Regions from separate parts of the Homo sapiens genome. Here all the other regions are reported to be linked to region 1. Evidence: microRNA targets listed by miRTarBase, many of them from high-throughput screens and not tested one by one. Region 1 holds a microRNA gene; each other region holds the end of a gene's coding sequence.
Evidence for each region. The annotated mature microRNA hsa-miR-1283 reads UCUACAAAGGAAAGCGCUUUCU and lies in region 1 at 1,439-1,460, shown strand. An mRNA with a match to its seed (bases 2 to 7 or 8) in the 3' UTR can be bound and repressed. Matches are read on the target gene's strand: a 7mer-m8 pairs with bases 2 to 8, a 7mer-A1 pairs with bases 2 to 7 and ends in A, and an 8mer does both.

Region 2: miRTarBase lists FNBP1L as a target of hsa-miR-1283. Seed matches in the 3' UTR shown: 7mer-m8 at 1,943-1,949.
Region 3: the mRNA of FBXO9 is a reported target of hsa-miR-1283. Seed matches in the 3' UTR shown: 7mer-m8 at 2,631-2,637.
Region 4: the mRNA of PPP1R8 is a reported target of hsa-miR-1283. Seed matches in the 3' UTR shown: 7mer-A1 at 775-781.

What each region holds. Positions count from the first base shown.
Region 1 is chr19:53,756,807-53,759,806 of GRCh38, forward strand. MIR1283-2 (microRNA 1283-2) reads left to right here and starts at 1,426; the gene lies at 1,426-1,512. MIR516A1 (microRNA 516a-1) reads left to right here; the gene lies at 1-24. It overlaps LOC124904766 (a long non-coding RNA gene), which reads left to right. Exons shown (of 2, transcript XR_007067335.1): 1 at 1-877.
Region 2 is chr1:93,551,710-93,554,898 of GRCh38, reverse strand. It overlaps FNBP1L (formin binding protein 1 like), which reads right to left. Exons shown (of 17, transcript NM_001164473.3): 17 at 238-2,490. The coding sequence ends at 2,483. Among named protein-coding and RNA genes, the nearest start is that of TRC-GCA7-1, 37 kb to the right of the region's middle. RefSeq lists an enhancer at 1,357-1,885 and a silencer at 1,933-2,227.
Region 3 is chr6:53,097,140-53,100,328 of GRCh38, forward strand. It overlaps FBXO9 (F-box protein 9), which reads left to right. Exons shown (of 13, transcript NM_033480.3): 13 at 583-3,189. The coding sequence ends at 691. Among named protein-coding and RNA genes, the nearest start is that of FBXO9, 33 kb to the left of the region's middle.
Region 4 is chr1:27,849,872-27,853,060 of GRCh38, forward strand. PPP1R8 (protein phosphatase 1 regulatory subunit 8) reads left to right here. Exons shown (of 7, transcript NM_014110.5): 7 at 222-1,805. The coding sequence ends at 575. Among named protein-coding and RNA genes, the nearest start is that of PPP1R8, 21 kb to the left of the region's middle.

The DNA of each region.
Region 1 (3,000 bases):
CTTTCAGAGGGTTACGGTTTGAGAAAAGCAACGTTGAAGTTGACGCTGATCTTGGTAATACATTTGCAGAGCGTGCTGATCATCAGACGTGGATAATGGTGGGGTTTTGTTTTTTATCTAAGACAGGGTGTCTGTTCCCCAGGCTGGAGTGCGGTGGCACTTCCAACTTAGATCTCTTGGGTTCAAGTGGCCCTCTTTTTGGGACAGAGTCTCACTCTGTGGCCCTGGCTGGAGTGCAGTGGCAGGAACTTGGCTCACTGCAATCTCTGCCTCCTGGGTTCAAGCAATTCTCCTGCCTCAGCCTCCGGAGCAGCTGGGGTTACAGGCTGTGCCACCATGCCCAGCTAACTTTTGCATTTTTATTATTGATTTATTGATTTATTTTTGAGACAGGGTCTGGCTCTGTCACCCAGGCTATAGGGCAGTGGTGCGATCTCGGCTCACTGCAACCTCCACCTCCCACCTCAGCCTCCTGAATACCTGTCTCCAGGCATGCACTACCACACCTGCCTAACTTTTGTATTTTTTGTATAGATGAGGTTTCACCATGTTGCCCAGGCTGGTCTCGGACCCTTGAGCTCAATTGCTCCTCCCGCCTGGGCCTCCAAAACTGCTGTGATTAATGGTGTGAGCAAGCGTGCCCTACTCTTGTGTGTTTCTGCTCAAATTTTATGGAGGAGCTTTTACATCCCAGCCTGTGGTCTATCCTGGAGAATGTTTGTGTGTGTGACAATGTATATTCTTCAACATTTTAGATTCCATTTGGATGCTCCCATCCGGACTGTGTGCCCCTGTACTGGAACTCAAGTGAACACTTGGCTCAACATCCATTGCTGTTCTCATGAATTCCAGGCCAATTGTCTTGGTTAAAGACAAGGTATGTGGGCTGGGCGTGGTGGCTCATGCCTGTAATCCCAGCACTTTGGGAGACCGAGGTGGGAGGATCACGAGGTCAGGAGTTCGAGACAAGCCTGACCAACACGGTGAAACCCATCTCTACTAAAAATACAAAAATTAGCTGGGCGTGGTGGCTCCACCAGTAATCTCAGCTACTTGGGAGGCTGAGGCAGGAGAATTGCTTGAACCCAGGAAGCGGAGGTTGCAGTGAGCTGAGATCGCGCCACTGCACTCCAGCCTGGGTGACAGAGCGAGACTTCATCTCAAAAAATAAAAAATAAAAAGGTATGTGTAGTAGGCATTGCTTTTTCTCTTTGTAGATAATACTCAGGAGGACTGCCTCTTGAACAAGGCTAACCTGCTGAGCCTTTGAAGCAAGGAACTGGAGATGGTCCTTTTAGGGGGTTATGTTCTGGATTCCAGAAAACATGCAAATAGGGACAATGAATGCATCTTTATTTTTCTGTCCATTTTAACCTGGTCAAGGAAAATTTCAACAAGAAACCCAGAGTGCTGGAGCAAGAAGATCTCAAGCTGTGAGTCTACAAAGGAAAGCGCTTTCTGTTGTCTGAAAGAAAAGAAATCGCTTCCCTTTGGAGTGTTACGGTTTGAGAAAAGCAGCGTTGAAGTTGATGCTGATCTCGGTAATACATTTGCAGAGCATGCTTATCACACTTGGACGGTGGCGGGGTTCTGTTTTGGTTTTGCTTTGTTATTCTAAAACAGGGTCTGTGTTGCCCATGCTGGAGTGCGGTGGCACATCCCACCTAGGTCTCTTGGATTTAAATGGTCCTTTTTGGGGGCCAGAGTCTCTCTCTGTCACCGAGGCTGAAGTGCAGTCATCCCATCTTGGCTCACTACAACCTCCGCCTCCCAGGTTCAAGCAATTCTCCTGCTTCAGCTTCCCAAGTAGCTGAGATTTACAGGCGCCCATCCCCACACCTGGATAATATTTGGGTTTTTTTTTTATTTATTTTTAAGATGGGGTCTCACCGTCACCCAGGCTGTAGTTCAGTGGCTTGATCTCGGCTTACTGCAATGTATGCCACCCAGGATCAAGTGATTCTCCTGCCCCAGACTCCTGAGTAGCTGGAATTACACGCACCTGCCACTACACCCGGCTACTTTTTGAATTTTTTTTTTTTTTTTTAAAGTAAAGATGGGCTTTCACCATGTTGGCCAGGCTGGTCTCAAACCCCTGACCTCAAGTCAGCTGCTTGCCTCAGCCTCCCAAAGTGCTGAGAATACAAACATGAGCCACTGCGTGGCCATCAACACCTCTTACTTTATGGAAATTTTTCTGGCACTGGTATAGAACCTCACGTGGGGTCAGGTGGAGTTGAGGGGACCTCAGTTTCCCTTGCAGATGGGATGTGCACTGCTCAGCAAGAGCACAGAGGTGGAGTGCATGGGGCTTCAGTGTTTATTGGGGAAATGAAGCTAAAATCTTCGGTGTGTGACCAGGAGATAAATGCATGAGATGGGGATCTCACTATGCTGCCCAGGCTGAAGTGGGCTTAGATCCTCCTGCCTCTGCCCCTCCCCAGTCCTTGGTACATGGGACTACATGTGAATATTAACCCCCCATGCACAGACAAGAAGAAAGTAAGGACTGTTCTTTGGTTCATACCTGACCCCAGTTAAACATGTATTTTAGATAAACAATGTATTTGAAATGTACTTGAACAACAAATGATTTGCTGTTTAGGTGTGGGCATCTTTTTTTTTCTTCCTAACTTTAAATATGGGACTAGTCCAGGTACGGTGGCTCATGCCTGTAATTCCAGCACTTTGGGAGGCGGAGACAGGAGGATCACCTGAGGTCAGTTGTTCGAGACCAGACTGGCCAACATGGTGAAACCTCGTCTGTACTAAAAATAAAAAAATTAGTGAGACGTGGTCTTGGTGCATGCCTGTAATCCCAGCTACTCGGGTGGATGAGGCAGGAGAATTGCTTGAGGCTGGGAGGCTGAGCTTTCAGTGAGCTGAGATCAAGCCTCTGCACTCCAGCCTGGGCAACAGAGTGAGACTGAGTCTCAAAAAAGTAAAAAATCAGCTGGGTGCGCTGGCAAACACTTGTAATCCCAGCACTTTGGGAGGCCG
Region 2 (3,189 bases), not on the chromosome of region 1:
TGCATGCAATTTAAATTCACTCTAAAGAGACAGCAAACTTTTTTTTTCCTTTAGGAAAGCTTAGAGAAACCAAAATTAGAATACAATTTCCAAAACTGCTTTGCAAAAAACAAAAAAAACTTGTCCCACTTATGGAATTTGTCATCTACTCTGTATTATCTGAGACTTGGCACATTCAAGAACAAAATCATCACATCTCTGATTCACATAGCAATGAAAGATCACACACTAAACACCTTAACAGGCCATGAAAAGATTGTTTTATTCCATGTAAATATTCTCAACAGAGAACACTATCTTTAAATGAAGGATTTACCATTAAGAAATCAACATGTGCACAAAAAGAGTAAAAATTACCAAAAAATTAAAGATTTTTTGGGACAATTCACATGTTCAAAATTTAAGAATGATTTAAACTGTGCAAGTACAAATGTCTTTCCTATTATAATAACCCATATACAGGTTGCACTATTCCACATCAAGGAACTTGCCTCCTACGGAAGCAAATCCTGCTTTTAGAAAAACAAACAGTAGCTTGAAAAGAACAGTTAGTCCTTACAAGAAAGTCTTAAACTTTGCCCTCTGTGGCTGTTAGCCAAAAAACCATAAGCACTTCAGGCTTTGTACAGAAGACAAACACAGCCAGATCACATTTCCTCCTCATTGCTAACCTTTAAAATAAAAATAGCACTAGATTTTAAAACTACTTCATGTAGTCTGTCAGTACTGAATAATGTCACATTATATAAATAACCCTGTAACGAGATTCAATATCTAAACTTTATAGTTTACTAGCTGCAAAGGTAATACACTATATGTCAGCTGTGTAACAGTGGTGACTTGATCTTATGAAGGCAGTAACTTTCACACAATTGTCATTCAGCTTTAGTATAACGGGTAGTATGATTCAAATAACACTGGGAAAAAGTTATTAAAGCAGTCACACAGCTTCTAAAATATTGCTTAAAATTCAATAATACACAAACCATTTCACGTTCTTTCTCCCCTCAAAACAGTAAAGAACCAAATTAATGAAGATTCAGTGGTACAAATAACCCCCCACCTGCCCCATCTCCCTATTACAACACCACTAAGAAATTAGTTAAGATACATGTCATTAACAGAATCACAAATGCGAGGCAGGACACCATGAGCAACAGGAGCACTAACAACAATCATATTTACAAGTATAAACATACAGAAATTCCATTTTACAAGTAAAAGTGCACATAGATCATTACAAAGTTTCACTAAATTTTATCAGGTTCAAACAAAAGCATCACGTGGAAAGAGACTATCATTGTAATTATCAAACATGATCGTCATAACCCAAAATAAAAAGACAATTGGGGGAGGCCCATAAAACTTCTCATAAAACCACTGAGGAAATTAAAATGGACTTGGACATGTCTTTAGTTTGATGCATAAATTTGAAGATGCACCACTGTATATGGTAGAGCTCTAATAGCCACCTACCGAGGCTACATCGGCAGCTGCAGCGGTGCTGCAGAGTTAAAGCAGGTCGCACTGAGCTGACACATAAAGCCCTTTGTGGGATACTGTAGTGGTAGTGTTGGCAATCAACAGATTTAGGCACTCAAGTTTAAGGCAGCATTTGAATGGAAGCAGCTGACTTTTGACAATAGTCCTTTGTCTTGAGGTGGTGAATATCTTCTGTGTTTATTATGCCAGGATTTCAGTGCTGACTAGATTCTTCCCAGACTGAGGTGCTGAAGATGTATCACGTTTCAAAGAGTTCTTTCAACTGGGCTGTAGGCTACAGCAGAGATGTTTTCTTTTTCTTATCATAAATACTTCAGGTTCACAGCTACTTCTTCGTAATGCCAAAACTGGAATGTTTGCAGTGGGGAAGTTATAGCAGTGTGCACAAATACTAAGATGGAAACATTAGTGCTGGAGATGTTTGACAAAGTGATTTGCACTACAAATGTAAAACAAAACAAGGCTTTGACAAGAACAAGGGAATCTAAAGACATGCCTGAAAAATCTAGCTCAATCACGCTAGACATGCAACAGGATGTTAAGCAAGCACGGAGGTGGCGCAGGCAGACACTGACAGATGGCAAGGATCTGACAGATAGTGGGTCTAAAAGCCAATTAAAACAGAGCTGGGAGGGAAGACAATCCTGTTGGGACAGCTAATGTAAGACACATTTTTTGACAGCTCTGCATTCTTTATTGATTAGACAGCAATAAAATAAATAGAAAAATGGTACACTATTGTTGGCTTTTTCTTTTGTGGGAATAACTGTGAACTAGGAACTTAAGGGTTGGTATTATGATTTTTAAAAACAATGTATGGAAATGCTAATGAAGTTAGTAAAAAAAAAATCATGTCTGCATGCACTCATGCAACTTGCTTCTCTCACTCTCTTTGAGCCTGACAACTCTAATACCCTCCCCCAAAAGCAGCTGCATGTAACCTCCTTCAACATCTTGCCCATTTCCTCAGAAACCCTCTTCAGGAACCTGCAGTCCAGGAGGAAAAAGAAAAGAACAATTACTGAAGACCTTTGGTAAAACCAAAAGGGGTGTTCAGTTTAAAGTGCCTGTCCCAAATGTCTCTATCATTTTATAGTCAGCTACCGAAAACACCAGGAAAATTTAAAACATGGGCAAAATTAAAAACCAATCTTACTGCTTCTTCACACTTTACTTCCCCACACCACTGACTCAGGGTGTGGTCACACAACCAGCACTGCACAATCCTTGACTGCACAGTGTTTCCAACAACGCTTGCTGAAACTAATTGGAAAAATTTATCTATCCTAATAACTAATGATTCAGCGGAAATAACAAAATGCCCTAAAGGCGGTACACATATCTTCCTCTAACCCAGATAGTCAAAAAGTTTCTCCTTTAAAAATTAAAATTTGTCAACACTTCCCCTCCATTCAAGGTTTCCTCTATCTTCAAATGTGTATTTTTCTATGTAACTGTGTATTTTCCTATGTGTAACTGCTAAATGCTAAATAATCACTAAAGTGGTATTTCCCAAAAGATATTTTCAAGATGAAACATACAAAAGTATGAGATTAGTTTGGAAGGAAGCTTGTAAATTATTGAAAATTACCAGCTAACCTCAAAATATTTTGAGGTCTCAAACAAAATCTATTTTATTCACCTAAGAGCTAGACCAGGAGATTTATTTTGAAACTCTCTTTAAAT
Region 3 (3,189 bases), not on the chromosome of region 1:
CTACTTTCCCTCCCCCCTGCCTATAATTATGCTGTTGATCATGCAATTATTAAATAATCAAATTATATTCTAGGAATATAGTTATTTCTGAAACATTTTAAGAAGAACCTAATGTCTATAGCTTCTGACTTAAAAATTCTATCTTAGGAATCTCTGAAGGACATCAAAATCACATAATTTTTAATTGAGAAATAGTAGACACAACCTAAATCTCCAATTAAGTAAACTGTGGTACAAGCAGACAGTGAAATATCATCCTGCCACTAAAAATGGTTTCTGAAAAATAATGATGTGGGAAAATACAAATAATTAAATGAAATAAAAAGAATTACTAAGTTTGATCTCAAGAAACACTAGAAAATATCCTTCATATGGCTCTGAGTGTTGGAATTGTGGTGATGTTTCTGTATACATTTCTAAATTTTTCGAGTTTTCTACAATATGCCTATATTATATAGAATTTCCTAAGATGAATTAAAAATAAAAAAGGCTAAAGCATAGAATAACCTTCCCCAAACACACAAGGATTTTAAATGAATTGAAATTTCCTCATACTAGTAATTTTGTGCTTTTTTTTTACAGATCAACTGGTGAGACTGCAGTCAGTGCTTTTGAGATTGACAAGATGTACACCCCCTTGTTCTTCGCCAGAGTAAGGAGCTACACAGCTTTCTCAGAAAGGCCTCTGTAGAGCCTCAAGTCCAGTCCTCTATCACTTTTGCATGAATTAAAGTATATAGCGCAAAAGAGCACCTAAGTTATAAATGTGTGTGTGTGCGTGTGTGTGTATATATATATATATATATATATATATATATATATATATATATATATATGGAATTGGAACTTATTTTAAATTGTTGGAGTTCTTTTAAGAAGAATATAAATTGATTATTTTTTTTATTTAAAGGGATAGTTGATTCCTGGGGTGTTTTGAAATTAAGTTGGAATTAAGTTGCTTAAGCATATTTATGTTGTGAGAAACCTTAATATGAGGTTTATCATGCCCTTTTTCAAGCAGATTTATGAGCAGATTTCTGTCACATAAGTCGTCTTCTGCTTGAGTATCCTAATATTTCAATGCATCAGGGGAGCGCTCCACTGGATAAGCATTTTATTTCCCGCATGGCATAATGTTTTTGCACTAAAGGCTCAAAGTGTGAGAACCTGTTCTGGATTTGTTTGAAATTATTTCACCAATAAAGATCATAAATAAATGTTTCTTTCAAGAAAATATATTTGGATGGCCTTTTTAAAGTAACAGGATATTTAATAAGAGTCCTAGATAGCCAGCGGAGACTTTAAGAATCATTGCCTCTAGCTGGGTGTGGTGGCATGCACCTGTAGTCCCAGCTATTTGGGAGGCTGATGCAGGAGAATAGCTTAAGCCCAGGAATTTGAGTCTGGGAGTTTGAGTCCAGCATGGGCAACATAACAAGACCCCATCCCTTATTAAAAGAAAAAAAAATAATTCCTCATTTCATCATTGGTCTTTATATGTAGCCACAAACACTGACCTCATGTAGGCACCTTACCAATATATGACATTAAGTGAGAGTGAATCCCTTAGGACTGGAACACTTCAAGCTCAACCAACTGACTCAGTTGTCATTCTTCACAAAAGAATAGTAGAGGATCATGTAAACCTGAGCCTAACTCTTGTTCCAGTATGAAAGTTGGGGGAGAGCACCAGCCACCTAGGAAAACTGTATGTTACCTTTTTACTCAAAGGAGTCCCCCCTGCCCAGTAACAGTCCTATTAGTGTTTAATTTCAGAGTTTGTGTCTGGTAGACCTCTACCTGATTCAGATTTGGTTTTGTTGTTTCAACCATAGTTAGAGACAAATTCTCATGTACTTTCAGAAATCAATATCTGCAGCCACTGTTACTTTTAATTGACATTAAGAGACACTTCATAGGTTCCCACAATTCAGTATGGGATAGGCTTTTTAAAAAGCACATACAGACCAGGCGTGGTGGCTCATGCCTATAATCCCAGCACTTTGGGAGGCTAAGACAGGCAGATCACCTGAGCTCAGGAGTCCAAGACCAGCCTGGGCAACATGGCAAAACACCGTCTCTACAAAAAAAAAAAAAAAAAAAATTAGCCAAGTACAGTGGGGCACACCTATAGTCGCAGCTACTTGGGAGGCTGGGGCAGGAGAATTGCCTGAGCCTGGGAAGTGGAAGTTGCAGTGAGCCAAGATCGTGCCATTCCACTCCAGCCTGAGCAACACAGTGAGACCCTATCTCAAAAAAATAATGATGATAGTACACGTTATGTTAAAGGTGAAATGTGCATACAGAAGGAAGAGAGTTGGCCAGGTGTGGTGACTCACACCTATAATCCCAATACTTTGGGAGGCCAAGGCAGGAGGATTGCTTGAGGTCAGGAGTTTTAGACCAGCCTGGACAACATAGCAAGACCTCATCTCTTCTAAAAATTAAAAAAAAAAAAAATAGGCATGGTGGTACACACCTGTGGTCCCAGCTAGTTGGGAGGCTAAGGCAGGAGGATCACTTAGCCAGGAGGCTGAGGCTACAGTGAGCCAAGATTGCACCACTGTGCTCCAGCCTGGGTGAGAAAGCGAGACCCTGTCTCAAAAAAGAAAAAAAAGAGAGGTTGGCCTTTTGTAGCAATCTGAGAAGTGTGTTTTTCAAGTTGGAAAGGAAGGAGAAAAGCAACTTGCCTAAGATAAGGTAGCTCTTCATGATATGACTGTTATTTCTGATATACAAATAAATAGAACATGATTAGGACATAGTCAAATATAGCTAGAAAAATATATTCCTAAGGAAAGTGAGATTTGAGGAGTCCCTGTTGTTCTGCAACATCCCTAGATTGAATGATCTGTTGCAGATGGTGGATACCAAGTTCAAATTTAAAGATTTCTTTGTAAGCAGTAAAGTGACTTTCACTTATTTAACTTAGAACTGGAAAAAGTAACTTTTTTCCAGATTACATTTTCTGTATATTTGTAAAATGCAAAAGCAATATATATTTGTTGTGAGAAAATTAGAATATACAGATAAAATAAAATTTAAAAAAACACCCAAAGATAACCAGAAGAAAATTTTTGCTATGTAACCTTTTTCTTCTGGTCTTTGCAAATCCTGCCGTAGAAACTTTTTAACTTCAGGAGTGTCCTTCCTTTGCTCTATTAGGACATTACAGAAACCAATACTATG
Region 4 (3,189 bases), not on the chromosome of region 1:
CAGTGTTTGGGAACCATCGTAGATGACTGGAAAGGTCTCTTCAAACCGTAAGATTTCAACATCATGAAATAGGTTGTCTGGAAAGGAGAACAGGCTAGAAGTTAGGAATCTTTCCCAAAAGCCATTTTTTTAAGGCTGGAATAGAAAAAGCTAACCACTCTTGGGCCTCACCTCTTGTCTTCTCTCTCCAATCTCTCCCCTCTCCTCATCGTGAACTGTAGAAGAAGCGTGTGGAGGGCCCTGGCTCCCTGGGCCTGGAGGAATCAGGGAGCAGGCGCATGCAGAACTTTGCCTTCAGCGGAGGACTCTACGGGGGCCTGCCCCCCACACACAGTGAAGCAGGCTCCCAGCCACATGGCATCCATGGGACAGCACTCATCGGTGGCTTGCCCATGCCATACCCAAACCTTGCCCCTGATGTGGACTTGACTCCTGTTGTGCCGTCAGCAGTGAACATGAACCCTGCACCAAACCCTGCAGTCTATAACCCTGAAGCTGTAAATGAACCCAAGAAGAAGAAATATGCAAAAGAGGCTTGGCCAGGCAAGAAGCCCACACCTTCCTTGCTGATTTGATATTTTTGGTCATGGAGAAGGGTGGGATTGGGTGGGAATGGGGTGGAAGGGTGATGGGGAGCTAATGAACTAGGGAGAAAAACTTTCCATGTGTGCGGTATCGTCTTTCAGAATGTCTCCTGGCATCCTAACCATGTAATATGACAATTGGGGGTGGGGTTGAAATAGCCCATAAAGACCTGTCTTCACAACACTTGCATTGTAGAGAAAGGCTTCTTATATCCTTTTCAATAGACTGCCCTGGCTCTTTCCTAGGCCTTCCACTACCTCCTTTCTTTCTCCCACTTTCTAGGATCATTTTTATGTAAAGTCACATATCCCAGGCCCTCAGGTTGAATCCAGAGCTGTAGAGGTTACAGTAGCATCACCAGCCTTGGGGGTCCAGAGCCTAATTTATATTCACTATCCTTCCAAGTCCCGGGTAGCAGAAGGGTTGCCATAGATCTCAGTTTGATCAAAAAGAAGGCTTAGAATTCTGCAGTTAAGCTGAGGTTTAAACTAAAAAATGTTTCCTTGGGTCAGTGGTTTTGAGGTCCAGTAGCTAGGCTTTTCTCTTTTGTCCTTCCTGTTGGAATGAAAACATTTCGATTTTCCTTCATCTGTGACTGGTGCCATAGACACAGGTTTATAGTTTTAACTTACAGTATTGTTTGAAATTTACCTGTTTTTCTTGTCAAACCTGAGCACTCCTCCTGCTGAAGTTTCTTATTTAATTCCAGAGTACTGTCCTCTACTCTAAGGCATTACTTTTAAGTGTATTATGAAGGCAGTTTTCAAAGGATATGACCAGTTGGGGTAATTCAAATTAAAAAGGAAAAGATTTGTTTGGAAGTAACTGGTGTCTCTAAGAGGAATTTTTAGATGTCAGTTTGGAGGCTCTTTCCCCCCTCAATTGAGAGCTCTTGTTATTCAGAGCTCCAAGACTAGACCTGGCTAACAAACATAGGAGACAAAGTTAGGAAACATTGATACAAGCTTTGTACAGAGATTTGTACATTTGTGTAATAGGCCTTTTCATGCTTTATGTGTAGCTTTTTACCTGTAACCTTTATTACATTGTAAATTAAACGTAACTTTTGTCATTTGGGTGCAGGCTGTGAATTTGTCTCTCAGTCACTGATTGCCACTGCCATCTGGAAATGTTTGCTAAAGGCACAGTCACTGGGCTTGGGAGGCAATGCTCCATCCCCATTATATTACAAATAAAGATGCCCTAAATGAGTGTGGAAATTCTAATGAGAGAATGTAGTCCCCAGACTGAAGCCTCACAAAGCAGCGTTGGTTCGGAAGTGCTTGGTGCCCTTCATCAGGAGACCTCATGACGGGAGACGGGGCTTTAGGGCGTTTGCATAAGCCCTATCACCCACCCTGCAGTTAGAGCTCTGTGCATTTGAGCCATAGCTTGGTGACACAGGAGCAAACGGAAGCTAAAGGTAAGTAAGTTTAGGAGGGATTTCAGCAAGAATTTGAATTGAAGGAATATGCCTGCATACGGAATCTCATTTGCAGTAAGTATACTGTGTTTGTGAGACTTACATGTGGCTTTGAGATGAAGATGCCAGCTAGGTTCCAGATCCTTGGGTCAAGTGCAGACTCGTAGGAGGAGCAACCTTCTGAAGAACAGAAATTCATAACATCAGCTGTGCAAAGAGTTGACTTCCCCACAGGGTCTGTAAAAATGAGTGTCTCCCTCTCCCCCTCCCCCTCCCCCTCCCCCTCTCCCTCTCCCCACGGTCTCCCTCTCATGCGGAGCGGAAGCTGGACTGTACTGCTGCCATCTCGGCTCACTGCAGCCTCCCTGCCTGATTCTCCTGCCTCAGTCTGCCGAATGCCTGCGATTGCAGGCACGCGCCGCCACGCCTGACTGGTTTTGGTGGAGACGGGGTTTCGCTGTGTTGGCCGGGCCGGTCTCCAGCCCCTAACCGCGAGTGATCCGCCAACCTCGGCCTCCCGAGGTGCCGGGATTGCAGACGGAGTCTCGTTCACTCAGTGCTCAATGGTGCCCAGGCTGGAGTGCAGTGGCGTGATCTCGGCTCACTACAACCTACACCTCCCAGCCGCCTGCCTTGGCCTCCCAAAGTGCCGAGATTGCAGCCTCTGCCCGGCCGCCACCCCGTCTGGGAAGTGAGGAGTGTCTCTGCCTGGCCGCCCATCGTCTGGGATGTGAGGAGCCCCTCTGCCTGGCTGCCCAGTCTGGAAAGTGAGGAGCGTCTCTGCCCGGCCGCCATCCCATCTAGGAAGTGAGGAGCGCCTCTTCCCAGCCGCCATCACATCTAGGAAGTGAGGAGCCTCTCTGCCCGGCCGCCTATCGTCTGAGATGTGGGGAGCGCCTCTGCCCGGCCGAGACCCCGTCTGGGAGGTGAGGAGCGTCTCTGCCCGGCCGCCCCGTCTGAGAAGTGAGGAGACCCTCTGCCTGGCAACCACCCCGTCTGAGAAGTGAGGAGCCCCTCCGCCCGGCAGCCACCCCATCTGGGAAGTGAGGAGCGTCTCCGCCCGGCAGCCACCCCGTCTGGGAGGGAGGTGGGGGGGGTCAGCCCCCCGCCCGGCCAGCCGCCTCATCCGGGAGGGAGGTGGGGGGTCAGCCCCCCCGCCCGGCCAGCCGTGCCGTCCAGGA